Linked DNA regions of Homo sapiens. The protein of the gene in region 3 purifies or fractionates together with the protein of the main gene of each other region. This does not show direct contact. Each region holds a gene or a part of one and is shown on either strand. Other genes may lie near its edges. The genes, in order: VTI1B, COLEC12, CLEC12A and SOX13.

The links.
Region 1: the proteins of CLEC12A (region 3) and VTI1B purify together in Homo sapiens (affinity purification with mass spectrometry; 3 studies listed by BioGRID and IntAct, with this or other methods). This does not show direct contact.
Region 2: the proteins of CLEC12A (region 3) and COLEC12 purify together in Homo sapiens (affinity purification with mass spectrometry; 3 studies listed by BioGRID and IntAct, with this or other methods). This does not show direct contact.
Region 4: the proteins of CLEC12A (region 3) and SOX13 purify together in Homo sapiens (affinity purification with mass spectrometry; 3 studies listed by BioGRID and IntAct, with this or other methods). This does not show direct contact.

Annotation. Positions count from the first base shown.
Region 1 is NC_000014.9:67,671,538-67,678,614, reverse strand, and holds the start of VTI1B (vesicle transport through interaction with t-SNAREs homolog 1B), read left to right. Parts: upstream 1-3,982; 5' UTR 3,983-4,125; coding exon 4,126-4,240; intron 4,241-7,077. Other genes in the region: RDH11 (retinol dehydrogenase 11), read left to right, coding at 192-294. UniProt on the Homo sapiens protein: V-SNARE that mediates vesicle transport pathways through interactions with t-SNAREs on the target membrane. These interactions are proposed to mediate aspects of the specificity of vesicle trafficking and to promote fusion of the lipid bilayers.
Region 2 is NC_000018.10:329,630-336,897, forward strand, and holds part of COLEC12 (collectin-12), read right to left. Parts: intron 5,602-7,268; coding exon 5,113-5,601; intron 3,515-5,112; coding exon 3,378-3,514; intron 2,149-3,377; coding exon 2,039-2,148; intron 1-2,038. UniProt on the Homo sapiens protein: Scavenger receptor that displays several functions associated with host defense. Promotes binding and phagocytosis of Gram-positive, Gram-negative bacteria and yeast.
Region 3 is NC_000012.12:9,967,237-9,974,578, forward strand, and holds the start of CLEC12A (C-type lectin domain family 12 member A), read left to right. Parts: upstream 1-4,172; 5' UTR 4,173-4,340; coding exon of another isoform or gene 4,341-4,360; coding exon 4,361-4,451; intron 4,452-7,342. UniProt on the Homo sapiens protein: Myeloid inhibitory C-type lectin receptor that acts as a negative regulator of myeloid cell activation. Myeloid cell inhibition is required to limit proinflammatory pathways and protect against excessive inflammation.
Region 4 is NC_000001.11:204,110,987-204,118,254, forward strand, and holds part of SOX13 (transcription factor SOX-13), read left to right. Parts: intron 1-1,928; 5' UTR 1,929-1,929; coding exon 1,930-2,148; intron 2,149-3,334; coding exon 3,335-3,446; intron 3,447-3,532; coding exon 3,533-3,619; intron 3,620-5,520; coding exon 5,521-5,693; intron 5,694-6,135; coding exon 6,136-6,204; intron 6,205-6,606; coding exon 6,607-6,721; intron 6,722-7,268. UniProt on the Homo sapiens protein: Transcription factor that binds to DNA at the consensus sequence 5'-AACAAT-3'. Binds to the proximal promoter region of the myelin protein MPZ gene, and may thereby be involved in the differentiation of oligodendroglia in the developing spinal tube.

The DNA.
Region 1 (7,077 bases), on a different chromosome or scaffold from region 3:
GATCTAAAATGGTAATTACATTTTCTCTGGCTAAGGACTGGAGAATGAAGAGATAAGGACAAACACTGGCCCTGTGAAGTACATGGAGAACATGTGATCCCTAGTTGTTTTTATGTCATATTCCTTATCCCTGGCAGATGGCAGACTTCATTCTTAACACTGTGCTTCATACCTTTCTCTTTACCTTCCAGTGACTGTCATGTGGCATGGGTCTCTGCCCAAGCTCGTAATGAGACTATAGCAAGGCGGCTGTGGGACGTCAGTTGTGACCTGCTGGGCCTCCCAATAGACTAACAGGCAGTGCCAGTTGGACCCAAGAGAAGACTGCAGCAGACTACACAGTACTTCTTGTCAAAATGATTCTCCTTCAAGGTTTTCAAAACCTTTAGCACAAAGAGAGCAAAACCTTCCAGCCTTGCCTGCTTGGTGTCCAGTTAAAACTCAGTGTACTGCCAGATTCGTCTAAATGTCTGTCATGTCCAGATTTACTTTGCTTCTGTTACTGCCAGAGTTACTAGAGATATCATAATAGGATAAGAAGACCCTCATATGACCTGCACAGCTCATTTTCCTTCTGAAAGAAACTACTACCTAGGAGAATCTAAGCTATAGCAGGGATGATTTATGCAAATTTGAACTAGCTTCTTTGTTCACAATTCAGTTCCTCCCAACCAACCAGTCTTCACTTCAAGAGGGCCACACTGCAACCTCAGCTTAACATGAATAACAAAGACTGGCTCAGGAGCAGGGCTTGCCCAGGCATGGTGGATCACCGGAGGTCAGTAGTTCAAGACCAGCCTGGCCAACATGGTGAAACCCCACCTCTACTAAAAATTGTGTATATCTTTGTGTGTCTTCCTGTTTATGTGTGCCAAGGGAGTATTTTCACAAAGTTCAAAACAGCCACAATAATCAGAGATGGAGCAAACCAGTGCCATCCAGTCTTTATGCAAATGAAATGCTGCAAAGGGAAGCAGATTCTGTATATGTTGGTAACTACCCACCAAGAGCACATGGGTAGCAGGGAAGAAGTAAAAAAAGAGAAGGAGAATACTGGAAGATAATGCACAAAATGAAGGGACTAGTTAAGGATTAACTAGCCCTTTAAGGATTAACTAGTTAAGGATTAATAGCAAAAGATATTAAATATGCTAACATAGCTATGGAGGAATTGAGGGCAAGCACCCAGGACTGATGAGGTCTTAACAAAAACCAGTGTGGCAAAAAAAAAAAAAAAAAAAAAAAAAAAAATCCTAAAAACAAACAAACAAAAAAAACAATTCTTCATTCAGAAAAATTATCTTAGGGACTGATATTGGTAATTATGGTCAATTTAATAATATTTTGGGGCATTTCCTTACATTGTCTTGACAAGATTAAAATGTCTGTGCCAAAATTTTGTATTTTATTTGGAGACTTCTTATCAAAAGTAATGCTGCCAAAGGAAGTCTAAGGAATTAGTAGTGTTCCCATCACTTGTTTGGAGTGTGCTATTCTAAAAGATTTTGATTTCCTGGAATGACAATTATATTTTAACTTTGGTGGGGGAAAGAGTTATAGGACCACAGTCTTCACTTCTGATACTTGTAAATTAATCTTTTATTGCACTTGTTTTGACCATTAAGCTATATGTTTAGAAATGGTCATTTTACGGAAAAATTAGAAAAATTCTGATAATAGTGCAGAATAAATGAATTAATGTTTTACTTAATTTATATTGAACTGTCAATGACAAATAAAAATTCTTTTTGATTATTTTTTGTTTTCATTTACCAGAATAAAAACTAAGAATTAAAAGTTTGATTACAGTCAAAAGAAGAAAACACTGTTCATTATTATGGTTGTGCAATGATTTCTCATTCTAAAGAATAATTTGTTCCAGAGTCTAGCTACAGTGTAATCTCAATCCACATGCTATTAATTTAGGTTGTGTGATAATCTAATTGTTCATTCACCATTTCCTACTTAACCTTTTTTGACACTCTTCACAGACACTTTTTCCACATTTCTTGATCATCCCGGGCCATTTTTTTTTCCTTTCTTTTTAATTAGAGACAGCGTCTTGCTTTGTTGCCCAGGCTGGCCTCAAACTCTGGGCTCAAGCGATCCTCCCACCTTGGCCTCCCAAAGTGCTGGGGTACAGGTGTGAGCCGCAGCACCCGGCCCCAGGCTATTGATCCTTTTTTTGCACCTGCCCCTTATTTCTGTACTGTGACAAGTCCCAGCATTGTGCTGTGGGACTTACACAGTATACTGACTATCCTCAGACTTGGTCATGTCTATGCTCAGTGCATATTAAGAGCTTAACCAAAGTGTGTTGAATCAACAGCCAATGAACTTGATCTAATAAAAATGAGGGCCCAGGAGATACAAATTAGCAAAGCATTTTCTCCTGAGCAGTCATACATCTTTTAATATTTGTAGGCAGTTTAAAATTGAACTCCCAAGCAAACATTTGAGAACAGACACCTTGAGCAAACCGTGAAATCGGTGAAAATAATAATTTATTTTAATTTTTTGAGATAGGGTCTTCTCTGTCACCCAGGCTGGAGTGTGGTGGCACGATCTCAGCTCACTGCAACCACTGCCTCCCGGGTTCAGGCGATTCTCCTGCCTCAGCCTCCCGAGTAGCTGGGGTTACAGGCGCCCACCACCACGCTTGGCTAATTTTTGTGTTTTTAGCAGAGACGGGGGTTTCACCATGTTGGCCAGGCTGGTCTTGAACTCTTGACCTGAAGTGATCCGCCCGCCTCGGCCTCCCAAAGTGCTGGGATGACGCGTGAGCCACCATGCCCGACGTGAAGACAGGAATTTATACCCATGGAGTGCAAGAAGGGACCTTGTAATTTTTAACACGTGACACTTAGTGGCAGATGAGACCTAATGAAGCCAGGCCCACCTTCCACACCAGATTATAAATTCCCCTGGAGCAGAGATTAAATGTTTTATTCACCAACATGCCCAGATCCCTCGCAATGCCTACGCTTGACAAACACCTGTTGTCAACAAGTGCACGAGGCAGCCTAGGAGGAGAATTAGTCTCCACGAGGAGAATTACTCGGGCCTAGCAGCTAGAGTATTTCGAGGTCATCCTAACTGGGTTCCACTTTTGAATTTTTGGTTTTTGGGTTTTTTGTTTTTTTGGAGACAAGATCTCGCTCCACTTGGGAGCAAGGTCTCCCAAAGCTGGAGTGCAGTGGTGGGACCTCAGCCTCCGGGGGTAGCTGGGGCCAAAAGTGCGCGCCACCATGCCCGGTTCTTATTTTGGGTTTCTGGTAGAGCTCTCGCTATTGTGCCCAGGCTGGTCTCGAACTACTGGGTTCAAGCAATCCTCCCACCTCGGCCTCCCAAAGTACTGGGATTACAGGCGCGAGCCACTCGCCCGGCCGGGTTCCACTTCTGAAAGCTTGGGGAGCCGCTGGGCCTTCCAAGAAAAGTGCTCCACCTCCCGACGGCAGGCAGAGCCCCTGGCCCGGCTATCTTTCCAGGGCCGAAAGCTAACAGTCAAGACGCGAAACGAGGAATTCGGGTCAGGGTGGCAAAGCAAAGCGCGATGACAGTGAGGACGACGTCTAGACGCAAACATACATCAAATCGGGCCGAAGCCCGCTGTCGCCGCGCGGGCTGAACCTGGCACCCGGAGCAACGCGCGACCCCGGGACGAGACGCTCTCGTCCGAGCCAAACTACATCCCCCGGCGTGCACTGCAGCGCCCGCCCCTCGCCGGCCGGCGGGGCCCGGGAGGAAGGCGGCCGCGCTGCCAGTCCCGCAGGTCCCCTAGGCCCCTTTCGCTGCGGCCTTTCCCCAACCCGGACCCGGCACTTCTCGGGTTCCGCGACTGCCGATCGCCCCGGCGCGGCACCGCTCCCTCAGGAGTCGCCTAGGCCGCGCAGTCTCCCGACTTCTCGTCAGGCTTTCGCGCCGGCGCTCCAGCAATCACTGGCTGGAGAAGGTGGGCGTTCCGGCTCGAGAGGACCCTGCCGCGGCTCCGGAAGAGCCTCGTCCTGGGCGGCGGTGGTGCGGCGGTCGCCGTTATGGCCACTGGGCTGGGCGGCTGACCGCCGGGCTAGGAAAGGGCCCAGGGCCCCGAATCTCGGTGGCCGCTGCTCCAGCGCGGCCTGCGCCATGGCCTCCTCCGCCGCCTCCTCGGAGCATTTCGAGAAGCTGCACGAGATCTTCCGCGGCCTCCATGAAGACCTACAAGGGGTGCCCGAGCGGCTGCTGGGGACGGCGGGGACCGGTGAGGCGGGGGTGGGCCACGCCGTGGGGAGCGCAGCCCTGCGCGCTTTGGAAGGAAGATTCTCCCACCTTCCTCCCAGACCCGGGCCCGCGTCTCCTCCCTCCGCGTCCTCAGACACGCCCCCTAGGGCTGGCTTGTCCCAGCCCCAGGTCTCCCTGCTGCCACTGAGAGTAAATTGGACCTCGGGATTCAGTTCCCTGGGATCCTTCTATGGCCTTCCACATTTTCTCATCTTTTTTCACTGTGGCAAATAGAGCAGAGGGGCTTTTGCATCTGCGGTCCTGTAATGTAGAGTGGGTTTCTTTCATAGCTGTTTTTGTTTGTTTTATGCATTTAAAAGCACTAGTCTCAAGACAGGTCTAGTTTTCACCAGACTGACAGAGGATCCGTAGCACAGAAAAAGGGTTAAAAACCCAAAGGAGTCATAATTTGGGGGTGTTGGTAAATACCAGTTATTGGAGGGTAGAGAGCTGGCCTTTAAAACCTGATTGTGGCATTTAGATGTGGTCTTGTTTTGAACGTTTTTACAGCTGAGACTGTTTACTACCCCTTAATTTCATGATTCAGGTTGCTACAAGTTCTGTCTGGAGGAGCTAGAGTTTTCCGGCCCTAAATCCATAGGAAAAGCTGCTATAGTTCTTGGCCTCCGGATATATAGAATTTGATGGCAAGGACAAAACTTTGTTTTATTGCTTTTATTTAAGAGTCAGAGCTTGGGTGTTTGCTCAACGAATTACTCAAGGTCATAGGAATTGAATGACTGGTGAGAATGAAATTCATGTATTTAATATATATTTATTGTGAGGCTGCTGTGTGCTAGGTGCTGGTGAATTGTGAGGCACCGTTCTAGGTGCTGGTGAATATTGCAAATTACAGTGAAAAAGATACGAACATCCCCATTCTAGTGGGTAGGTGATAAACAATATATAACTATTAAGAGGCAGTGTTAAAGAATACAGGAAAGTAAATCAGAGTAAAAGAATAGGGGATGGGACTTCAGTTTTATTTTATTATTTATCATTTTTTTTTTTGAGACAGGGTCTCACTCTGTCACCCAGGCTGGAGTGCAGTGGCACGATCTCGGCTCACTGCAACCTCCACTTCCCAGATTGAAGCAATTCTCCTGCCTCAGCCTCTGGAGTAATAGGGATTACAGTTGCGCCACCACCCCTAGCTAATTATTTTTGTATTTTTAGTAGAGACAGGGTTTTGCCATGTTGGCCAGGCTGATCTCTAACTCCTGACCTCAAGTGATCCGCCTTCTTTGGGACTTCAGTTTTAAATAGGGCGGTTGTGAAAGTCCTCTCTGAGGAGATGGCGTTTGAACAGAGACTTAAATGAAGTGAGGGAGTAAACCAGAAATCAGGGAGAAGTGAGTGTCAGAAGGAGGGAATAGCACTGCAAATGCCTTTAAGCAGAAATGAGCTTGGTGTGTTCAGCGAAGAGCAGGAAGTTCCATGTGTTTGGGATGGAGTGAGCAAAGGAGAGCGATAAGCAGGGCCAGATCATGTAGGGCCTTGTGGACCATGGTGAAAGACTTGTGCCTTTTTCTAAATATGATGGGATGCAGTTAAAAGATACTGTGCAGAAGCATTGTGGGATCTGATTTATGTGATTGAAAAGTAGACTGCAGGCAGGGTACGGTGGCTCACACCTGTAATTCCAGCACTTGGGGAAGCCGAGGCGGGCGGATCACTTGAGGTCAGGAGTTCAAGACCAGCCTGGCCAATATGGTGAAACCCCATCTCTACTAAAAATACAAAAATTAGCCGGGCATGGTGTCAGTTGCCTGTAGTCCCAGCTACTCAGGAGGCTGAGGCAGAATTGCTTGAACCCAGGAGGCGGAGGTTGCAGTGAGCCGAGATCATGCCACTGAACTCCAGCCTGGGCAACAGATCAAGACTCTGTATCAAAAAAAAAAAAAAAAGAAAAGAAAAGAAAAAAAAGTAGACTGCAGGCCAGGCATGGTGGCTCACACCTGTAATCCCAGCACTTGGGGAAGCTGAGGCAGGAGTATTGCTGTGTTGAACGATTTTGAGACCAGCCTGGGCAACATGGTGAAACCTCATCTCTACAAAAAATAAAAAAATTAGCCAGGCATGGTGGTGCATGCCTGTAGTCCCAGCTCCTGGGGAGGCTGAGGTGGGAGGATCACTTGGGCCCTGGAGCTGGAGGTTGCAGTGAGCCAAGATCGCACCACTGCACTCTAGCCTGGACCACAGAGCAAGACTCTCCCAAAAAAAAAAAAAAATGTAGACTGCATTTTCAACCTGGCACTGAATTAATTTTTGCAATGCCCATTTCTATAAGTCTAAATAATGCAAAAGAACATTGCTTTGAAAAATAGAAAATTGAATTCATTATTACTATGGTTTGAATGTCCCCCTCTAAAACTTATGTTGACATTTATTTGCTATTTTAATCGCATTAAGAGGTGGGACCCATAAGAAATGATTAGACCATGAGGGCTCCATCCTCAGAGATTAGATTGTTATCCTGAGAGTGGCTTGGTTGTTGAGAGAGTGGGTTAGTTCAGCCCTCTCTTGCTTGCCTGCTCTCTTGATCTGTTGCCCTTCCATCTTCTGCCATGGGGTGACCCATGGGTAGCAAGAAGGCCCTTGAAAGAATCAGCCCTCTCAGCCTTGGGCTTCCCAGCCTCCAGAACTCTGAGAAATACATTTATTTTCTTTATAAATTACCCAGACTCAGCTATTCTGTTATAGCAACATAAAGCTAAGATAGTTACATTCACCTTTGTTGTCTACCCAGCCTTTTTCTCCATCCTGCAAAGAGGACAATCAGAAATATGTGAATTTCTTTTCTTTTTTCTTTCTTTT
Region 2 (7,268 bases), on a different chromosome or scaffold from region 3:
CCCCAGGACAGGCGCAGAGGAGCCGACGAGTCTCTGACAGGCCTGCAGCAGATATCCACTTGCCCTTAAGGGCAGTCTGAGGCTCACCTTCAGAGCAGACCTAAAATCTTCTAATGTTCCAAATCAATATTTCGCCACATGTTTATTTTTTATAAAGAGCTGGCCTGGCTAGGTGCGGTGGCTCATACCTCTGATCCCAGTGCTTTGCGAGGCCAAGGTGGGAGGATCACTTGAGGCTAGGAGTTTGAGACCAACCAGAGCAACATAGTGGACCACGTCTATCCAAAAACTTTAAAAATTAGCCGGGTGTGGTGATGTGCACCTGTGATTCCAGGGACTTGGGAGTCTGAGGTGGGAGGATCGCTTGAGCTGGGGAGATAAGAGGCTGCAGTGAGCCATGATCGTGCCACTGCCCTTCAGCCTGGGCAACAGAGTGAGACCTTGTCCCTTAAAAACAAACAAATAAAAACAAAAGAGAGATGGCCTTATTCTGGTTTCCTCCTTTATCCTCTGATCCTACTCACATGGAGAATTTGAAAGTACAAAAGAGCCTGTTTATCCAAATGCACATGCACACGCACATAGGGACATTTAAAAAACTCGATCTGGCTTCTCCATCACCTCTGACCCTCCTCCCTGCTGCTCAGCTGATACAGGGCTAGGCCTCCATGCCCATGAGACTCTCTTAGGCCTGAAACACCCTTGTTTTCTCCTCTCCTGGGACAGCCCCAGAGGCCACACCGTGGACTTTGCCTAGTGCTCTCAGAAGGTGCTTCCAATGCGGTGATGCTCCTGTGCCTGGTGGAGCCCTGCAGGGTCTGGCCTCTCCGTCCCCAGCAAACTAAAGGTTACTCAGAGGGTTTTTTTTTTTTTTAATTTTATTTTTTTTATAAATTCTGCTTCATTTGTTACAGTTCCTTGCAATTTTCACACCCGTCAGAGGCAAAGCCAGAGTATGGAGATGTGATAATCAAACTGATGCAATACAGTCATTGTTAGATCTTTGGGTAGAATTAGGGAAGGAGCTAACACCCCCTAGGGTAGGATGAGGCCCTGGAGACTTCTAGGTTATCCAAGAAGGTACCTCAAAGTGATTCTATTCTTTGTTGCTCCTTTCATAGAACTTAGGTCACATGGAACTTATGGGGAATCTTCAAACCTCTAGGGGATGGTTATCCCGCAAATGCAACTTTGTTTATAGTGTATTTTAACTTACTATGAGTAGGAAAATCACACATTTGTAGTTTTTTTTTTTTTTTTTCTTTTTTGAGATAGAGTCTTGCTCTGTGGCCCAGGCTGGAGTGCAGTGGCGCCATCTCGGCTTGCTACAACCTCCGCCTCCTGGGTTTAAGCAATTCTTCTGCCTCAGCCTCCCGAGTAGCTGGCATCACCCGCATGCGCCACCATATCCGGCTAATTTTTGTTTTTTTTGTTTTTTTAGTAGAGACGAGGTTTCACCATGTTGGCCAGGCTGGTCTCGAACTCCAGACTTCAAGTGATCCGCACACCTCAGCCTCCCAAAGTGCCGGGATTACAGGCGTGAGCCACTGTGCCCAGCCAGGAAAATTACTCATTTGTAGTTTCTAATCACACTCTGCCTAGAAGCCCAACTAGGGGTCAGGGGCACCCACAGTGTGATCCTGAAGGGAGCTCCCCAGTCCTTGGAAACACGCCTGGGGCGAACGCTGAACATGCCTGAGGTTGCCTGGGCTTCATCATCTTTTCCCATAGCATTTAAAGAAAATGACTTGGCCAGAAGTATTATGCTGTGTGGTTTTATGAGTTTCATGATTTTTTTCTTAGAAATGAAAAAAAATTCACTCCATGAAAAGAAGAAAGGAAAGCCTTATTTGACAGCGTATCAACTGTCAACCACGATTTCCCCAGGGGAAATATGCAACTGGTACCAGGAGCCCCGGTTTGGGAGGAGCGTCTAGGACACGAGGTCATTAAGGAAGAAACTGTTGGGAGTCGGGCAAGAAGTGACAACAGAACAGTGAGAGCCTGACCACCAATCTGGAAGCTTCTGAGTACTTACTTGTAGTCTGGAGATGTCCCATCCAGCCACTTCCATTCATTTTCACGCTCTGAGTCTGTGAGGCCGATCCAGTGGCTCTCTCTCCCTACCATCTGTTTTTTTATCCATTGCTGAAAAACAAAGCAGGGGTGGTGCGTGACTATTTTTCAGAACAGATGTCTCAGGCCTTTTTCTTTTATTTAACATTTAGAAAAAAGGACAATTTAAAAGAGGATGGTTGTCAGAATGTGTAGCCTGCTTTTGCTTTCTGCTTTTTTCTTGCTACTTGCTTTGTTTTGTGCTGTTTGGGGGGCTTTGACTTTTTTCCTCTTACAAGTTTACAACGGATGTTAAAGTGAGGCTCTTCCTCTAAATCACTCAGACAACCCAGTGAATGTCCATTGGTCCCACTTCCTCCTACCACCCACCCATTTCTCCCATGTCCTAATCATAGGAATAGTCATGATATTCTTGGGCACTTCCTCTGGGCTGGGCCCCACGTGCAGTGTGTTGCACGCAGTGTGTCTCCAAGCTTTTATAACAACCCACTGAACAAACATGAGAAGTAGCTGAGCTGGGCTTGGGCCCTGGTCTGTGTATTCTAAAGCCCAGGTGCTTGGTCACTGTCTGCCGTGTGCTCATTCCAGTCAGTTACTACAGGAAACATCTGTTTACAGGATTGTGTCTGCTGGAGATAACTTAGGGAGAAGGGAGGAGGCCACTGGAATTGGTGTGGTATCAAAGAAAGCGCTGCATTGTTGCTAGATGGGCTGCAGTTTTGGTCTCAGTCTGCATAAACCTTGCCGGGCCTCAGTTTTCCTAGCCGTCAAATGAGGGTAATAATAATACCTATGTTCTAGGGTTGCTGTGAGGTTCAAGGGAGCAAATGCCTCTCACGGTGCCTGGCATATAGAGGGTCTAATGAGTGGACACTAGCATTAGCATGCGTGGGCTCTGCCTCCTCAGCCTTCTTCGCTCTTCCTGACTCCTCTGGAGCCATGCGTGGTCCCTTGCACCCCACTCCATCCCTACAGTGTTCATGCCTCTCTCTGTCCCCACAGGTGCCTGGTGGCAGCCCTCAAGCTTCTCTGCATTATAATTATTTCAACAGCCACCAGAAGGAGCCACACATCTCCAGGCTTGATAGGCAATATCTTCCAGGAAGAATCATGAAGATACAATTCCAATGCCACGAATGCTTCTAGCCACTGGATGAAACCCAAATCTCTGTAATGTTGCCTCCCATGTTTACGTGACTAGGAATTCGTGATATCTCTGAATCCCCAACAAGCCTGCAATTTCCAGATGTAAACTATCCTTAAATTATAGTTTTCCCCAACCAAGTATGTGGCAGGCATACCTGTTCCTCTCTAGTGTTTATGAAAACAAGATGTGAAGACTTGTCTTCACAGAAAAGCTTTGCATCCTCAAAAATTTCTTTCTCAACTGAAAAATAGTAGCATTTGTCTGTGAAGTTCTTCCAGTGAGGCGGGCAGCCTAGGAATGCAAAAGTGGAAAACATTGATTAAAAGATCACAGAAAGCACTCTGCCTTTCTTCAGCTGTGTTTCAGAGGCCAAAACTGTGGTCCCGCTGGGAGCAGCCTGAGCGTCCCTGCACGAGGCCCACAGCTGACGTTCACGGACGTGCTCGCAGCAAGCATGACCCAAAGTGGACTGCAGAGCACAAGCCAAAACCACATAATCTGGAAAAGATCTTTGACTGGGTCTTTGTTCTTCTGTGTCTGGATCCGTCTTCACAATGACAGAAATAACAGAAGCAACAACAAGAAGCAGGGCAGGCACAGATGTTCAGCGTCAGTCTGGAATCATACGGAACCCAGGAACACTTGGATGTGAGAACCCAGCACCAAAACTGGGCTCACGGATCAACAAAAATAACCCGGGCCTCACCGACCAAAATCAAGTAGAATAGCGGTTGGGTCAAAGGAGAGAAAAATAGGCTTGGTTGCTAACCAAACATTCGAGTTTTGCCAAAGGTTTAATTATCAAAAGACTAGAAGGCACCGTAACATCTAACACCTTTCTCAAAAAGAAATTAAATGTAGTCATCAATAGCAGAGGGTTCCATCCACATGTTGATGGAGCTAACCGAGGGAGCCCATCTATCTCCAGAGTGAGGATGTAAAACGAGGGAAGAGCGCTCAGGGCGGCCAGCAGGCTTCCCTGAAGGAAATGTTTTGCATTGTGTTTGTCTTCTGAGGGCTGGCTCCTATAAATAAACAAGTGCAAGAGCCAGGTGCAGTGGCTCCCACCTGGAATCCCAGCACTTTGCAAGACTGAGGCAGGAGGGTTGCTTGAGGCCAGGAGTTCAAGACCAGCCTGGGCAACATAGCAAGACCCTGTCTCTACAAAAAGGAAAATAAAAAATTAGCCAGGTGTGGTGGCATACCCCTGTGGTCCCAGCTACGCAGGAGTCTGAGTGGGAAGATCACCTAAGCCCAGGAGGTCAAAGCTGCAGTGAGCTATGTTTGCACTACTTCACTTCGTCATTCCAGCCTGGGTGACAGAGTGAGACCCTGTCCCATACATACACACATAATACATAAAACAAATGAGCACTAGAGAACCCAATGGCGTTTAGAGAGAAACACATGCCTGGTATGGAGGCCTGTTCTGGCAGCAGGGCTCCTGTGCCAGCCCCTATGATGCCTTTGCTGTTAAATAATATGCAGCGGGGGACAAGACGTGGTGGCTCACACCTGTAATCCCAGCACTTTGGGAGACTAAGGTAGGTGGATCACTTGAGGCCAGGAGTTTGAGACCAGCCTGGCCAACACGGTGAAACCCCCTCTCTACTAAAAATACAAAAATTAGCTGGCTGTGGGGGCACACGCTTGTAGTCCCAGCTACCTGGGAGGCTAAGGCAGGAGAATCACTTGAACCCGGGATGTGGAGGTTGCAGTGAGCCGAGATCACGCCACTGCACTCCAGCCTGGGCAACAGAGTGAGACCCTGTCTCAAAACAAAAACAAAAACAAAAATAACATGGGTGGGGCCACACACTGGGGGTTGGCTCAGTCTCAAGCACATGCACTGCCCTGTCCCCCTGGCTGGAGGGAGGGCTTGGACTTACCATTGTCCTCCGGTGCTGGGGTTGGCTCATTCTGCAGGGCCAGGGGCACCACCGCTCCTGATGGGCCAGGAGGGCCGGGGGGGCCCTTGGGGCCTGGCATGCCTGGTACCCCAGGCAAGCCTGGCAGTCCCCGAGGTCCAGGCACCCCAGGCTCCCCAACGGTGCCCTGAAGTCCCTGGAAGCCAGGAGGGCCCTGAGGGCCGGGGAGTCCCTCTTTGCCTGGTGGGCCCGGGGGGCCTGGGTCCCCACTGGAGCCCTGAGGGCCGGGCTTCCCAGGGGAACCACGGGAGCCTTTGGGGCCCTGGGAGCCTTTAGATCCTTTGCCGCCACGCTCTCCGGGGGGACCAGCTGGTCCAATTGGGCCTCTCTCACCCGCAGGGCCAGGTGGTCCAGGCTCCCCCTTCTCTCCTTTCTGTCCCTTGTTGCCAGTTGGGCCAGGGGGTCCCTGGGATCCTCTGTCACCTCTTGGACCCCTGGGGCCCGGTGGACCTAAAGCATAAAAGAAAAAGGTGTCAACATGAAATCCACTGTGAATGATAGTTATGAATAATTTTTCTTCTTATAAAATCTCCAAATTAAAAAAACCTAGCATACAAAGTATATACAGCAGGGAAAGACCATCTGTTTATCATACTACTGTAGACTGTTATGGGCTAAATTATGTCCTCCTCCAAATTCTTATGCTGAAGTCCTAACCCCCAGCACCTCAGGATGGGACTTATTAAGAGACACGGCCTTTACAGAGGTCATCGAGTTAAAACGAGGTGACATGAGTGACCCTAATCCAATAGGACTGGTGTACTTAAAGAAGAGGGGATTAGGTCACAGACACATAGAGGAAAGATCGCTTGAGGGCACAGGGAGAAGATGGACTCCTGCAAACCAAGGAGGGAGGCCTCGGAGGAAACAACACTGCTGACACCTTGATCTTGGACTTGCGGCCTCCAGAACCGTAAGGAAAGAAATGTCTGTTGTTTAAGCCTCCCAGTCCGTGTACTGTGTACTGTGTATATGGCAGCCCAAGCAAGCCAATATACTGTGTGTTCTTCAGTAAGCTCACCCTTCTTCTTCAAGCTTTTAGAATGTATTGTAACAGTGCACAACGTTTTAGTGCCCCACTGATGTCCTTCATGGTGACACTGACAGCCAGGGGCTTATTCTTCACAGTGACTCACATGATTAAACTGGGTTCTCTTAGTCACCTGGGCCTGTGTTGTCATCAGCAGGAAAGTTGTGTAGACCAGGATCAGGATTTCCTCTTACTTATTTCCTCTTGTCCTTAATTTGGTAAATATTTATTAAAGGCTTATATGACAAGCACCGTGTTAAGGTATTGTGGGATAAAGAACTGAAGGAGATTGATGTATTAATTCTCTCCCCATAACCAAGCCTATAACTTCCCTGTAAGCTTCCTCTCTGTTGTACCCCAGCTGGCATGCCTGTGCTGTCCACCAAAGCTGTGGGGGTGCTGCTGTCCTTAGGGCTGGGCCTCACTCACCCATGGGCCAGCTCAGAGGGACGGGAGGTCTCTGTGGGAAAGCCTGGTGGGACTTTGCTGCCCATTGTGGACAGGTGTCCAAACTCTCTGGGTGGGTTTGTAAGTCTAATAATACACATAAGGAAGGTAGGCTAGAGAAAAAAGGTATGTGGACCATCTAATTGGGAAGAAAAGCGAATACTGCTCATCCCCATTATCCCACAAAGAGGCCCATGTAACACAGGATTGTTTTTCTTTCTTTAATTTCTCAGGGGTAACAGGAAATTTCACACAAATAATCTCCTACCAGGAACTGTATAGTGAATGACAATTTTCAGGGTACTTTCACATACATTATGCCACCTGACCTTGCCTGTGCGGTAGAATTCTCATTGCATAAATGAGGACATGTAGGGCCAGAGATGCCAAACTATTTGTTCGAGGATACTTAGCTACTAGGAACAGATACCAAGGAGAGTAAGACATGGTCAGTCACAATCTAGTAGTGGAGCTGGGGCATGAACTCAGGTCTTCTGATGTTGAAATGAATGAATCTTAGAGTTTCTGAAATCTCACAATTCTGCATGAATAAGTAAAAGGCCACACTTAATCTCTCTCTCTCTTTTTTTAGAGACAGAGTCTCACTCTTTTTTTTTAGAGACAGTCTCACTCTGTCACC
Region 3 (7,342 bases):
AGAAGGAAGATTTGGGATGAGTTGCATTGGGAACAGAGACTAGGGAGGGACCAATGTGTAAAAGAATGCCTGGACGTCAGGCACCTCAGACCGTTTGCCTATTTTACAACAAGAATTATTTAGATCTTGTAGGATGGAAAAATGGAAAGTGACATTTTCTGGCTATGTGGAACTACTGTCGAGTTTGTATTGGGGTCAAGTGGCATTGCAGAAGAAAATAAGGCATTTAGGTTTTAGGTCAGCTGTGAATTGAAGAGGTTTTAGGTTTTTAAGAGCACAGGCTAAGGGAGAAGAAGGGGGAATGGAGGGCGGAAGCTTGCCCATAGTGAAGGAGGCAAGCCCAGAGAGAAGAGAGAGTAGAGACATGGAGAGAAGGGGTTGGGGGTTCTTGCCCCCAAGAAGAGCGGTACTTGCCGCTAAGGGTGAAGGAGAAGGGGTTGGGGGGTTCTTGCCCCCCAGAAAAGCGGAGAAGGGGTAGAGACATGGAGAAAAGCGGTGGGGTTCTTGCCCCCCAGAAAAGCAGAGAAGGAGTAGAGACACGGAGAGAAGGGGTTGGGGGTTCTTGCTCCCAAGAAAAGCAGTACTTGTCGCTAAGGGTGAAGGACCAAGGCAGGTGTCCCCACATGGTCAGACACCTCTGAAACATGGGTGAATAATCAGGCAGGCATCCCTGCCTGATTCCAAAGGGAAGACTGTCTTCCCAATTCCGTGACTGGTGCCGGAGTTTTGGGTCTATGAATAAAACGCGTCTCCTTCATCTCTGTCAGAAAAGGAAAGGAACTGAAATTAAGAGAGAGATTGAAGGGTGATGCCAAGATTGAAAGGAGAAAGAGGTTGAGGGATAGTGAGAGAGGTTGGAGAAGAGAGTAAAAAGAGGCCACTTACTGGATTTAAAATTGGTGAGATGTTCCTTGGGCTAGTTGGTCTGAGGACCAGAGGTCATAGGTGGATCTTTCTCATGGAATAAAGAGCAGGAGGACAGGGGATTGATCTCCCAAGGGAGGTCCCCTGATCCGAGTCACAGCACCAAATTTCACTCGCATCCGTGTGAAGAGACCACAAAACAGGCTTTGTGTGAGCAACAAGGCTGTTTATTTCACCTGGGTGCAGGTGGGCTGAGTCTGCAAAGAGAGTCAGCGAAGGGAGATGGGGTGGGGCTGTTTTATAAGATTTGGGTAGGTAAAGGAAAATTACATCAAAGGGGGGTTGTTCTCTGGCGGGCAGGAGTGGGGGTAACAAGGTGCTCAATAGGGGAGCTTTTGAGCCAAGATGAGCCAGGAGAAGGAATTTCAGAAGATAATGTCATCAGTTAAGGCAGGAACAGGCCATTTTCACTTCTTTTGTGGTGGAATGTCATCAGTTAACGCAGGAACCGGCCATCTGGATGTGTACATGCAGGTCATAGGCATATACACAGGCATATGATGGCTTAGCTTGGGCTCAGAGGCCTGACAATAACAACCCACAAAAAATATATAATTTAGGTAATGGATAATGTATCACTTATGTTTAATATTGGAAGACATCTGTAATTATATTTGCAGATTGTCTCTTAGTATTCAACTAGAATGAAAATTGATATAGGTTGATTTCATATCTTGTCTATTGCAAATAGTGCTGCAATAAACATGGGAGTGCAGGTATCTATAGTATATATACACAATGGAATATTATTTGGCCATAGAAGGAAATGAAATCCTGTCATTTGCAGAAACAGGAGTGGAACTGAAGGTCATTATGTTAACTGAAATAAGCCAGGCACAGAAAGACAAATATCACATGTTTCCACTCATATGTGAGAGCTAAAAGAATGAATCTCATGGAAGCAGAGAGTAGAATTGTGGTTACCAGAGGCTTAGAAAGGGGTGGTGGGGGATAAAGATAAGTTGGTTGGGTACAAAAATAAAATTAGATAGAAGGAACAAATTCTAGTATTTGATAGTACAGTGGGAAAACTATAGTTGACAATAATTTATTGTATATTTCAAAATAGCTAAAAGAGAAGAAATGTACTATTCCCAACAGAAGGAAAAGGTAAGTGTTTGACGGAATGAATATTCTTATTACCCTGATTTGGTCATTACACATTGTATACAGGTTTCAAAATATCACATGTACCTCCAAAATACATACAACTATTTTGTATCAATAACAAAATTTTTAAAAAACTGATATAGGCTGTGAAGGGCAAACCATGTAGTCATCTCAGAGCTCAGCTTATTCTTGTGGATATAAATGTTTTAGCTGGCTCTAAACCAAGGATTTTGTATGAAGTAATACTTATTCAAATATTTTCAACAAAATAGAGTACCTTGCAAACAGGACTTTGAGATTTTTCATTTGTTTCCCTTTACAGTTCGTCATATACGCTTCATCTTCTAGTGTTGATTGATGAAACAACGTTCCACATGAGACAGCAGAGCAATAGAACACAGAACAGGACTCTGCCTGTGTGGTGGCCGGTTTCCATCCTTTCACAAACAAAGAGATATTTATAAACAAATATTTATATGCAAATATTTGATCCACCTAGGAAAAATAGAGGGCTACTCTTTCCCACCAGGAGAGGCCTTATAGCCTGTGCACATATTTGAACAAGGCAACCAGAGACTTTGATGGTCTCAACTCTACCACTCACCAACTGTGTGATGTTGGATACAAACTTAACCACTTTGCAACTCACTTCCGCATCTGTAAAATAAGGGTGATAATAATAGCACCTGGTTTAGAGAGTTGTAAAGATAAAAGCAACATTAGTAAAGTACTTAGGATGAAGTAATCATGTTTTGAATATATTTTCCTTTAAATGTGGCTGCCAATATTTTCATGGTAATATTTTCAAATGTATTCAATAGCTTTTTCTTTATCAGGAGAAAATCAGTTGTTTTAATTAAATTGACATTGAATTTTTGATACATTTAGGAGAATTTAGTTTCTTTTTATACAGTATTGACGCTTCTAATCCCACAGCATGTTTTTCTATTTTTTTCTTTTCTTCAATAGTTTTAAAATTTTTTTGTTCATTTTGGTTATGCAAATATCTAGTTAATTTCTATCTGTAATATTTTCCTATTTATTTTTAGTAGCTCTTATAAAGGGAGCATTTTGTTTTTCCTGTCTATCCTGACATAATAAAGCAATTAGTTTTTAATTGATTTTTAAAAATATTTATGCATTCTCTTTCATATGTATAATAATAATACCTAACCATTTTATGATTTACATGTGGCAATGTCAAGAAGAATTTTAAAGTAAGATTTACTAACGAATATTAGAGAACATGCTCAAAAACAGTCCTCTCCACCCCCTCACTTCCACTTGCATTCTTGATCAAGAAGTGAAATAAAAAATACTAAGACTATTGAGTCAAACTAATAAGACACAAATCTGGACTTTGGAGACTCATTTCCCTCCCACTTTTGATAGCTTAGCTGAGGAGGAGATCAAATGGTTGAGTCAGTCTGTAGAGAGATAGCAAGGCTGATTATAGTTTTCCTGGCCTGCAAAGCTGTTTCCAGAGCCCTCAGTATACAGACCTTGGCCATCAGTATGCATACTCTCTGGTGTGGTTTCTGGGCATCAGATCCCTTAATATATAGGTTGGCGCTAAAGTAATTTTGTAAACTTTTAATGGCAAAAACCACAATTACTTTTGCTTTTAATGGCAAAAACCAGAATTACTTTAGCACCAACCTATATATTGTTATTTAGAGAAACTAGGCATTCCCTACCTCTCTTAGGCAAACCTATAGCTATGTAACATGGCAACGGAATGACACTAACTGTCTCATTCTCCTTGGGAGTGCTCTCTGTATGTTCAGTCTCCCAGTGAAGAGAACCCTTCTATCAGGACCTTCATCATCATACAAAAGGAATATCTATGCCAGGCCACAGCTGCAGATTAGTGAGTGTCTGAGAACTGCATCTTTTCTGTTATTTTTCTGCTTGAAAGTTTTTCACCAATAAATCCTACACTATGTCTGCACCATGTGGTGCTAGTTATTTGTGTTCTCTTGCATGACACTGATGATGTTATCCAAACACAATTTCAAAAACTACTTTCTGTAGTTGGTAAATATATAGAAATTGAGAAAAAGGAAGAAATATGAGGAAGAAAGATGTTATCTGTTGCAACAGTTCAATGTTCTTAACTGAAGCCACAGATGAGATTTGGCTCATTTGCAGACATATGGGTGATTGGTACAGTAGGTTTATAAACAGAAGTTTAAACTTGTAAGCTTAAGCTTCCGTTTATAAACAGAAGTTTAAAATTATAGGTCCTGTTTAACATTCAGCTCTGTTAACTCACTCATCTTTTTGTGTTTTTACACTTTGTCAAGATTTCTTTACATATTCATCAATGTCTGAAGAAGTTACTTATGCAGATCTTCAATTCCAGAACTCCAGTGAGATGGAAAAAATCCCAGAAATTGGCAAATTTGGGGAAAAAGGTAAGATTTTGAGTTATGGATGTGTTGTAAGTTTGTATAATAGAAGTGGTTATAGACTTGCATCTTCAATATTAGTGATATAGTTACTATTCAACTTAAATTTTCAATTAAGTCTCTTATGTTTAAGCAAAGGAACAAAAAGTGTATGAACAAAATGATTAGAAAAAAGGGTTTTGTAAAAACACTTATCTCTGCATTGAATAATCAATCTTTTACATTTTTGAAATTTTTTATTATCACACTCAATATAATTGGGACAGAATTTTTCAAATGATTGGGTTGTATGAAGATTTTATTTCTTTATGAGATGAAGCCATGGAAAAAGAAACATGTTCAGGAAAGTCATGATTTCATATGTGTGTGTGTGTGTGTGTTTTTTTTTTTATAAGAAAATGCTTTGTGTCAGACAGAGAGACCTTTATAGGATTTCATTTGACTATCTACCAAACTAAGCATAAATCACCCTAAAATTTCTCCTACTTCTTTTGGAGATTTTTTACTAACTTACTAAAAAATAAAACATGTTAAGTTAAATGAAATGAATCATTAAGGAATAAAGGAAGAAAAGAGGTAAAGAAATATCAGAAGACATAATATATTCATAATATTCAAAACCACATTATATCAAGTAACTTTGTATTTTTCAATTCAAATTAAAATCATGAAATAAGTGGTCCATCTGTGTTGACTTTCACTTAAACAAAACTACTCTTCATCTTACTCAGAATCCTATAGTTTTCCTATTATGTATGGTTCTTGCCTTCTGGCTCCTAGCCTTTTGGGAGTGAAATCTGCCCTAGCGAATCCATAGTTTAAATCAGTGTATTTGAGTTAAAAATAACTTAAACAGTGATAGTGGAGAACACAAAGAAGGGTGATAGAAACAGAAAAATAAGGAGAGAAGAGTGCCAAAATTCTCACATATTATTTAAGTTGTTGTCCTCTCTCCTCTCCCCACACAGAATATAACATCTTTAATATTCTAGCATTGCTATAAACAGAAATTTCACTGTTACATCTTGGATCCATTTATGATGAGCATTGTAAATCTTGAGAAAGGATAGCAGATTAATTCTGTTGGCTTCTTTTTTAATACTGAAATTTTTTTTTAGAAAGAAGAAGGGTTTAAGAATTTTACAATATTTTCTGTCTTTATTTCCTTGTTTATATTTCTTCTTTTATACACTGAAAGAGAATGGGCATATCATGAGCCTAATATTACCAACAATTGCCCTTTACTTGTCCTCTCACACCCTTTCCCACCTCTTTTCCTGCCAATCCACCTTAAGTTCCCACCACAAGAATTCCCTGAATTCACGGAAATATTGAATCCATGTCTTCTTCATGTTCTTAATCTCATCTAATTTTCTCATTATCGAGCTTAGAATCTACATTATGTAATATAACATTGTATTATGTAATGTCTACTCTTAGTCTCTTACACTTCTCCTCTTCAATGTGTGTTAATTTTTCCTTAAAAACTCCAGCTCTGGCTAGGTGCAGTGGCTCATACCCATAGTCCTAGCACTTTGAGAGGCCAAGATGGGAGGATTATTTGAGGCCAGAAGTTTGAGACCAGCCTGGGGAAAGTAGAGATATGCCATGTCTATAAAAAAAAAATTTTTTTAATTAACTGGGCACCCATAGTCTCAGCTGCTTGGGAGGCTGAGGAAAGAGGATTACTTGAGTCCAGGAGTTGGAGGCTCTAGTAAGCTAAGATCAGGCGAGTGTACTCCAGTCTGGGTGACACAGCAAGATCCTGCCTCAAACAAATCAAAACAAAACAAGACAAAAACCCCAAAAACAAACAAATAAAAACAACTCCAGTTCTGGTTAAACCCGAATATCCACCCAGTCTGCCCCAGAGTTGAATATTGCTGGTGAAAAATACACAAATTTTCAACCCCAGTTACTCTCACCTTTCCTCTGGTAAGAAAAAAGCATCCATCTACACTTTTTTTTGTTGTTATTTAAATGTCTATCCTACCATGTCCTTACTGATACTCTGCTTTCCTTCCAGATAGTATTTACGATAAGTATGTACTTATGAAGGGACGGCTCCTCATTTTGCTCTGAATTTCAGTCCATGTGTCGTTTTCAAAGACAGACTTCCGTAATTTTTTCCTTTCTCTCCTGTGTCATTATTCTCTCTTCCTTCTCTGCTTTTCCTTTTTGGTGCACCAACATACTCTACTACTCACCAATATACTCTGCTACTCCTTTTATAACAAAACACAATCCTTGCTTGACCACTTAAGCCTTTCCATTATTATTTAACTTCTTTGTTTCCTTTCACAACTCAACTTTTGAAAGCATTTTCTTTGGCCACTGACTCTCAGTTCTTCACCTCTCATTCTGTTCTCAACCAACTCTATTAGGCTTCTGCCCCCTTGGTGCCATAGAGACTGAGCTTTAGGTCACTGATGTCCTGCCTGTTTCATCCCAATAGTCACATGTCTCTTCCATTACTTCACTTCCCTGCAGCATTGAAAAAGTTGAACAGTCCTCTAAATGCTTTCTTTGCACATCCCTCCTGACACATCCTCATGGCTTCTCCTGTCACCATGCCTGCCTCTCCTCATTCTTTGTTGATTCCTCCTCCTAGATGAAACTCTACAAGATGGAATACTCTGAAGCCCTGTCCTGGGTCCCGTTTTATTGCATCACTCAGTACACTCTTCTAATCTACCTCATTCAGTTGTTTGACTTTAAATAGAGTGACTCCCCAATATCTCTGTATGACCTTTCCCTGAATCTCAAGACTAGAAAATACATGTGCCACTTTCACATTTCCATAAGGAGTTCTAATCTCATTTTAAACTTAAAATGTCAAAAATAGTAATATTTATTTTTCTTCTAAAATTGTCTCTCTCTCCAGACAGCCTCATCTC
Region 4 (7,268 bases), on a different chromosome or scaffold from region 3:
GATCCCTGGCCTAACTCCCAGAGATTCTGATTTGTGGGAGGGACTTATGACTTTGCCTCTCAAACAAGCCCCCAAGGCATGCTGAAGCTGCTGGTCCTTATACTGCATTCCAACTAGTAGTGGTTTAACAAACACCAGATCATGTGATGTTATTTGGAAATGTGATAAACAAGGAAACAACAAAACACCAGATCGGTGCTTACTGGTGCCACAAACTATTCTAAGTACCATATAAATATCAACTCCTAGTCCTCACGGCCATCCTATAGTGTAGAGACTCTTACCATGCTCATTTTACAGATGAGGAAACTTGAAGTACAGAGCAGCTAAGCAACTTGCCCTAGGTCACTTGGCTAGTCAGTAGCTGAGGCAGGACCCATGCATAGCTGGAACCTGCTGTGTTCCCACTAGAACCCAGAGCGCATCTCTGTGACTTTGGAGGATAGGCATCTGCTGCTCCGCCCAAGCCTGGCATGACCCCTGGAAACCACTCCCTGAGATGCTGCGATTGCTCAGCTCCTCAGATGTCCCAGGCAGTGATGTGACAGGAAAGGAACAGCAGGTGCAGAGTCTCAAGAGGGTCTGCCAGGTATACCAGCTGCTTAAACTAGGAACTGCAAACTCAGATGCCTATGGTGGCCAGACTCTGAGAGATTCTAGCTAGATACCGGAAAATATTTTTCGTAAAGCCAATCATCTCAGTCTGTTATTCCCCCCACCCCCGCCCTTTATTTTTTTAAAGAGATGGGAGTCTCATTAGGTTGTCCAGACTGGCCTCAAACACCTGACCTCAAGTGATGTGCCTTCCTCAGCCTCTTGAGTAACTGGGATTACAGGCATGAACCACCATACCCGGCTATTTCCCCCCGTGTGATAGATGCATGAAGCAAGAAATCATTTACTTTTACCTTATCTCCACTGTAAGAAGAAGACTATATGTCTTATATATAGAAGAATATATGTCTTATATAGTTAATACTTGGTTTCCTTTTTGAGGAGTAGTAGGAGTGTAGAGGCTAAAGTAGACTGGCCTGTCCATAAGAAATACCCATTACTCAATTCCAGCCAATTTTTACCACAAAAACAATTGAGCTAGAAGTTCAAATCTAGATTTTTATGTGTTATCTCTTGATTTTTAAGTATTGGTAACTAATTATAAAAATGCATTTGTAGGCTGGGCGTGGTGGCTTACGCCTGTAATTCCAGCACTTTGGGAGGCTGAGGCGGGCAGATCACCTGAGGTCAGAAGTTGGAGACCAGCTTGGCCAACATGGCAAAACCCCATATCTACTAAAAATACAAATATTAGTTGGGGGTGGTGGCGTGTGCCTGTAATTCCAGCTACTCGGGAGGCTGAGGCAGGAGAATCACTTGAACCTGGGAGGCGGAGGTTGCAGTGAGCCGAGATCGTGCCCTTGCACTCCAGCCTAGGTGACAGAGTGAGACTCTGTCTCAAAAAAAAAAAAATGCATTTGTATACATACAAACATGCACAGACACATGCACACATGCGTGCACACACACACACACACACACACACACTTTCTCTCTCTCGCTGTCGCTCTCCAACTCTGTTGGGCTCAGAAACAGCCAGTCAGTATCTGGCCTCGTTAGTTGGGCCGTCAGTCCACTAGTCCCGTAGTCCCAAGCATTACACAGGCAGCTGCTGCGCAAGGGTAGGCCCACTCTTCTCTAGAACTTTTTGTTTAAAAAGCAAAAAACAAAACAAAAAAGCATGAGGGATACAAGAGGCTTTGCTGATTTTTCTGTGGGTTCACAAGTAAGCTTGCCCTTTCTGTGAGTGTGCCCATGTGACAGGCACCAGGAGGCACTTGGGTGGGGTCAGGGGAGCAAACAGTAGGGTCACTGCCTCTGGGCAGAAGTTTACGACTGGGGACTCACCTCAGCTCACTCTGTCCCTCCCCCAGGATGTCCATGAGGAGCCCCATCTCTGCCCAGCTGGCCCTGGATGGCGTTGGCACCATGGTGAACTGCACCATCAAGTCAGAGGAGAAGAAAGAGCCTTGCCACGAGGCCCCCCAGGGCTCAGCCACTGCCGCTGAACCTCAGCCTGGAGACCCAGCCCGGGCCTCCCAGGATAGTGCTGACCCCCAAGCTCCAGCCCAGGGGAATTTCAGGGGCTCCTGGGTCAGTGTCCCCGCCCTGCCTCCATCCTCACACCCATGCGCTGTACCTGGGCTCTCTGCTCGGCTGGGCAGGCCCACTCCCCTAGATGGCAGCAGATACAGGCAGAAGTGGTGATCCTAGGGGTAAGACGCCATGTAGGGAAGCAGGGAGGCACTGCCAAGTTCAGTCTGAGGCTGGAAGCGGGGTCACCTATCAGAGCAGGACCTAGACTCATGCCTGTACTTACTCGCTTGATAGTGACAGTTCACCTATGTGTGACCCAGTCCTTGCTTCTGAGGACTAGATGGGGAGATGGGACACACATGCTAAAGTTTGGCTTTAAAGTAATCTACCAGATTTTTCAGATGATTTGGGAAAATCAACCTGATTACACAAGCAAGAATTAGGTCACTGTTAAAGATGATACGGTTCTTGACCCTTAAAAAAACAAGAGAATTGAGCTGCATGATTCATAAGGATTCTTGCAGCTCCTAAAAATTCTGATTTCACATATGAGATGTAAAAAGGTGATATATAATTAAAATCCAAATAAGTGAAAATGAGGAGAGTTATGGGCTCTAAGAAAGAATCCAGCCTGGAGGAAGGAGGTGGGGGGTGGGGGCACTGGTGATCAAGGAAGGCTTCCTGGAGAAGTAGAGCCTCAAGCTAGGCCTTAAAGGATGGGGAGGACTTTGACGAGAAGAGGAGTGAGGCAGGCAGTGGGGAGTGTGAGTAACTTTTGCCAGCCCCTACCTGCTCCCCTATGCAGCCCAGCTGGTGTAGTGGGTATGTTCAAGGGAGTGATAACTAATAGCTGACTTTTGGCCCCTGATTGTAATGGCAAATCTCATTCACATGCATTAACTCCCTTGATCCCAGCAACAATCCTGTGACAGAGGAGGTATTAATATTTCCATTTTCAAAAGAGGGAAGTCAGGTTCAGAGCATTTCAGGGACTTGTGTGGGATCAAGCATCGTGTGAGTCACTGAGCCTGGACTGAAACCCAGGTCTTTTGTTTTGAAATCTTCTGTTCTTTTCCTAAACAAAGCTTGGGCAGGTGGAGGCCAAAGGGACCTAGTGAGTGGAGAAGTAGGACTTGGATAGGGCTGGGATCCCTCAGGGTACACATCTTTGGGGTGCCCAGCCCTCCCTGCAGCCTGTCCCCTTCTCTTGGGGGTTATGGTGACAATTCAGTATGTCTTGCAGGACTGTAGCTCTCCAGAGGGTAATGGGTCCCCAGAACCCAAGAGACCAGGAGTGTCGGAGGCTGCCTCTGGAAGCCAGGAGAAGCTGGACTTCAACCGAAATTTGAAAGAAGGTAGGATGTCTGCCCTAGTTAGAAGCAGAGGCCTGAGGCAGGGAGGTGTTAAGACGGTTATTCCTCACCCCTTTGCTGTCTTCCAGTGGTGCCAGCCATAGAGAAGCTGTTGTCCAGTGACTGGAAGGAGAGGTTTCTAGGAAGGAACTCTATGGAAGCCAAAGATGTCAAAGGTGAAGGCCTGTTGGGGGTGGGGGAGATGTTTGAACCCCATCTCTCTTCTCCTGGTCTGGCCACGCAGCCTGGCTCTGTAGGGCAGTTCTTGGTACATACCTATCCTGTGCCATCTGGCTCCTGCCTGGCCTTAGGGGTCATCACCATCCCTCGCCTGGAGGCCCCAAGCATTAGGTCTCACTCATCCCATGCAGGAGAGGCCTGGTAGGAATCAAATCCCATGACTCTGAATCTGGGCTCTCACCAGGCACCCTTGTGACTTCAGGCATGTCATTGCCACTTCCCGAGTCTAACCGCAAAATGAGCAGAAAGTTCCCTTTCACTCTAATTAATTCTAGGTCAGTTGGACCTCACTAAGTGAGTGAAAAGTAGTTACTAATGGGCTGCTGCTTGGGTTCCTTAGAGTGATTTTTTTTTTTTTTTAAGATACAGTCTCCCTGTGTCGCCCAGGCTGGAGTGCAGTGGCACAATCTTGGCTCACTGCAGCCTCAACCTCCTGCATGATCCTCCTATCTCAGCCTCCTGAGTAGCTGGGAACACAGGCACCTGCCACCAAGCCAGGCTAATTTTTATATTTTTTTTGTAGAGATGACGTCTTACTATGTTGCCCAGGCTGGTCTCGAACCCCTGGGCCTAAACAGTCCTCCCACCTTGGCATCTCAAATTGCTAGGATTGCAGGCATGAGCCACCCACTGCACCCAGCCAGAATGATCATTTTTGCATTGTCATTGATCACACCCACAGAGGGAACTTTAAAACCGTACAGATGCCCAGGCTCCACCCCCACCTATTGAATGGGAACCCCAGGGTATGGTAGGGGCCTGGGCCTCTATACTTCTCAAAGGATCCATGAGTGATTCCGATGTTGTTTTTTTTTTTTTTTTTAAAAAAAAAAAAAAAAAAAAAGGTCTATGGCCAGGCACTCAGGAATAAACTGCTGCATCAGACAGGAGCTAAACTGGAGGTCAGGGGGACACTAACATTTATTGGTTGAGGACCATGTGCCAGATCCTGGACTAAGAGCTTTGCATATATTAGCGCTTCTTCTTCTTTTTTTTTTTTTTTTTTTTTTTTTGGAGAGAGACAGCTCGCTCTGTTGCCCAGGCTGGAGCGTAGTGGTGTGATTTCGGCTCACTGCAAAGTTCACCTCCTGGGTTCAAGCGATTCTCCTGTCTCAGTCTCCCAAGTAGTTGGGATTACAGGTATGCGCCACCATACCCGGCTAATTTTTGCATTTTTGTAGAGATGGGGTTTTACCATGTTGTTCAGGCTGGTCTCGAACTCCTGACCTCAAGTGATCCACCTGTCTCGGCCTCCCAAAGTGCTGGGATTACAGGCGTGAGCCACCACACCTGGCCTCTATTAGCTCATTTATCCCTCATAGTAACCCTCTGAGGTGATTATTATTATGCCCACTTACCAAGATTTTGAAAACCCTAAAGTGCAGAGAAATTGGTAACTTGCCTAACAGCTCACAGACAGGATGGGTTGAAATGGGAATTTGACCCCAGACCTGTCTTGCTTCAAAGCCTGAGTGTGTCCCACTGGATCCCTCCGATGGGATGGTTGTCCACCCTGACCCTGTGTGGCGCTGAGCACTCGAGGACATTGAAGAGGCCTGGGGCTCTGGGGCTGACATGTCCCACTGTCAGCATTTTCAGGGGGCCTGGAATTCATGGCTAATAGGGGAGAACTTCTAGGCTAGTAGTTGCCAGGTAGCAACATGAAGAGCCCCCTTCAAGGCAAGCATCTTGTGTCATCATCTCTGTGGCTCAGCCCCTAATGGTCCTGGGACATAGCAATTGCTCAATAAGTTTCTGATGGATGGGTGGATAGATGGATGGATGTATAGATGAACAAGTAAAAAGTCTCAATGGGGTCTGTTTCACTGTGGAGCAGGGACCCAAGAGAGCCTAGCAGAGAAGGAGCTCCAGCTTCTGGTCATGATTCACCAGCTGTCCACCCTGCGGGACCAGCTCCTGACAGCCCACTCGGAGCAGAAGAACATGGCTGCCATGCTGTTTGAGAAGCAGCAGCAGCAGATGGAGCTTGCCCGGCAGCAGCAGGAGCAGGTAGGTCCTGTTCGGTGGGTGTAGCTTTCTTTCCAGGAAAAGGAGTGTGTCAGGACCTAGAGAAGGCTGCCTTAGGGACAGGCCTCACCAGTGCAAGCTGGGGCCTGGGGGCAGGCTGGGCAGGGTCTGTGGCCAGGGGCTGTAGGATTCCCACCTGGACTGATTCATGAGCCCTTGTACAGGGTTAGGGGTGGGAGGGTATGAAAGGGACTCTGCAGGAAGAGCAGCTTGCAGCTTCCTGCCCAGCCTCCTGGTCCTGGAGGGAGGGATGAGCTTCCTGCAAAAGGAGAACCAATTCTGAGGGCTGACTGCTTTGCTCCCTACTGCCACCCCACTCCATGGCTTGCCCCACTGTAGAAAGCAGGGTGTGGTTAGGGCTGGGCAGACTGGGCACCAGGGCTAATGTCCGTGACCCCCTCTGCCTACTCTTTCCCTCTCCCAGATTGCAAAGCAGCAGCAGCAGCTGATTCAGCAGCAGCATAAGATCAACCTCCTTCAGCAGCAGATCCAGGTAACCGGAGGGGAGACCCGGAGAGGCACAGGAGGCAGTTGAGGGAGTTGACACCGGCCTGGAGGGTGCTGGGGACAGGGGATGTGCACCAAGTTAAAGAGCCAGAGCAGAATCACTCAGGCCTGACCTGAGGAGGGTTATTTCTATTCTAGCCCCCAACCTGTCTTCCTTCCCTGATTAAAGGGAGGAGCCCGGCATGTCTTCCTCCCCAGCTGAGACCTGAGGGCAGGTAGACAGGGGCCCACAGAGTTGGCCTAGGGTCAAAGGGATCCTTTGGAAAACTGTCCCTGCTTTATCCCCTGTGCCTCTTGTCCATGGGTCCATTCTCTGTGCCATGGGCTGACCATAGCTGGGTAGCTCTTTGGGTCCCTGGGGACTCACACAGGGTTTCTTTGCCTTCAGCAGGTTAACATGCCTTATGTCATGATCCCAGCCTTCCCCCCAAGCCACCAACCTCTGCCTGTCACCCCTGACTCCCAGCTGGCCTTACCCATTCAGCCCATTCCCTGCAAACCAGGTGAGTGTGAGAAGGGAGGTTCCACCACTGCGGCCAGCCTGTCCTGAGGTCAGGGAAAGCGCCCTGGAGCCACTCTCATCCATTAATTTGCTATGTGGACTTTCTGGGCCTCAGTTTTGGATCTGTCTGGTAGAAGAATCATCCTCTTTTTCTGAATCTTGCTGAATTTCTCTGAACTTCACTGGGAGAATGAAAAACCATAAAGCCCTTTCCAGATGTAAAATGATGTAGCAATCCAGGTCTAGTCTCTCCAACTCTAGTACATTTACTGTGTCAGAGTATTAATATCTGGAATATTGCCAGGTGTGGTGGCTCACGCATGTAATCCCAGCACTTTGGGAGGCCGAAGTGGGTGGATCACTTGAGGTCAGGAATTCGAGGCCAGCCTGGCCAACATGGTGAAACCCCATCTTTACTAAAAATACAAAAATTAGCTGGGTGTGGTGGTGCATGCCTGTAGTCCCAGCTACTCAGAAGACTGAGGCAGGAGAATCGCTTGAACCTGGGAGGTGGAGGTTGCAGTGAGCTGAGATCATGCCACTGCACT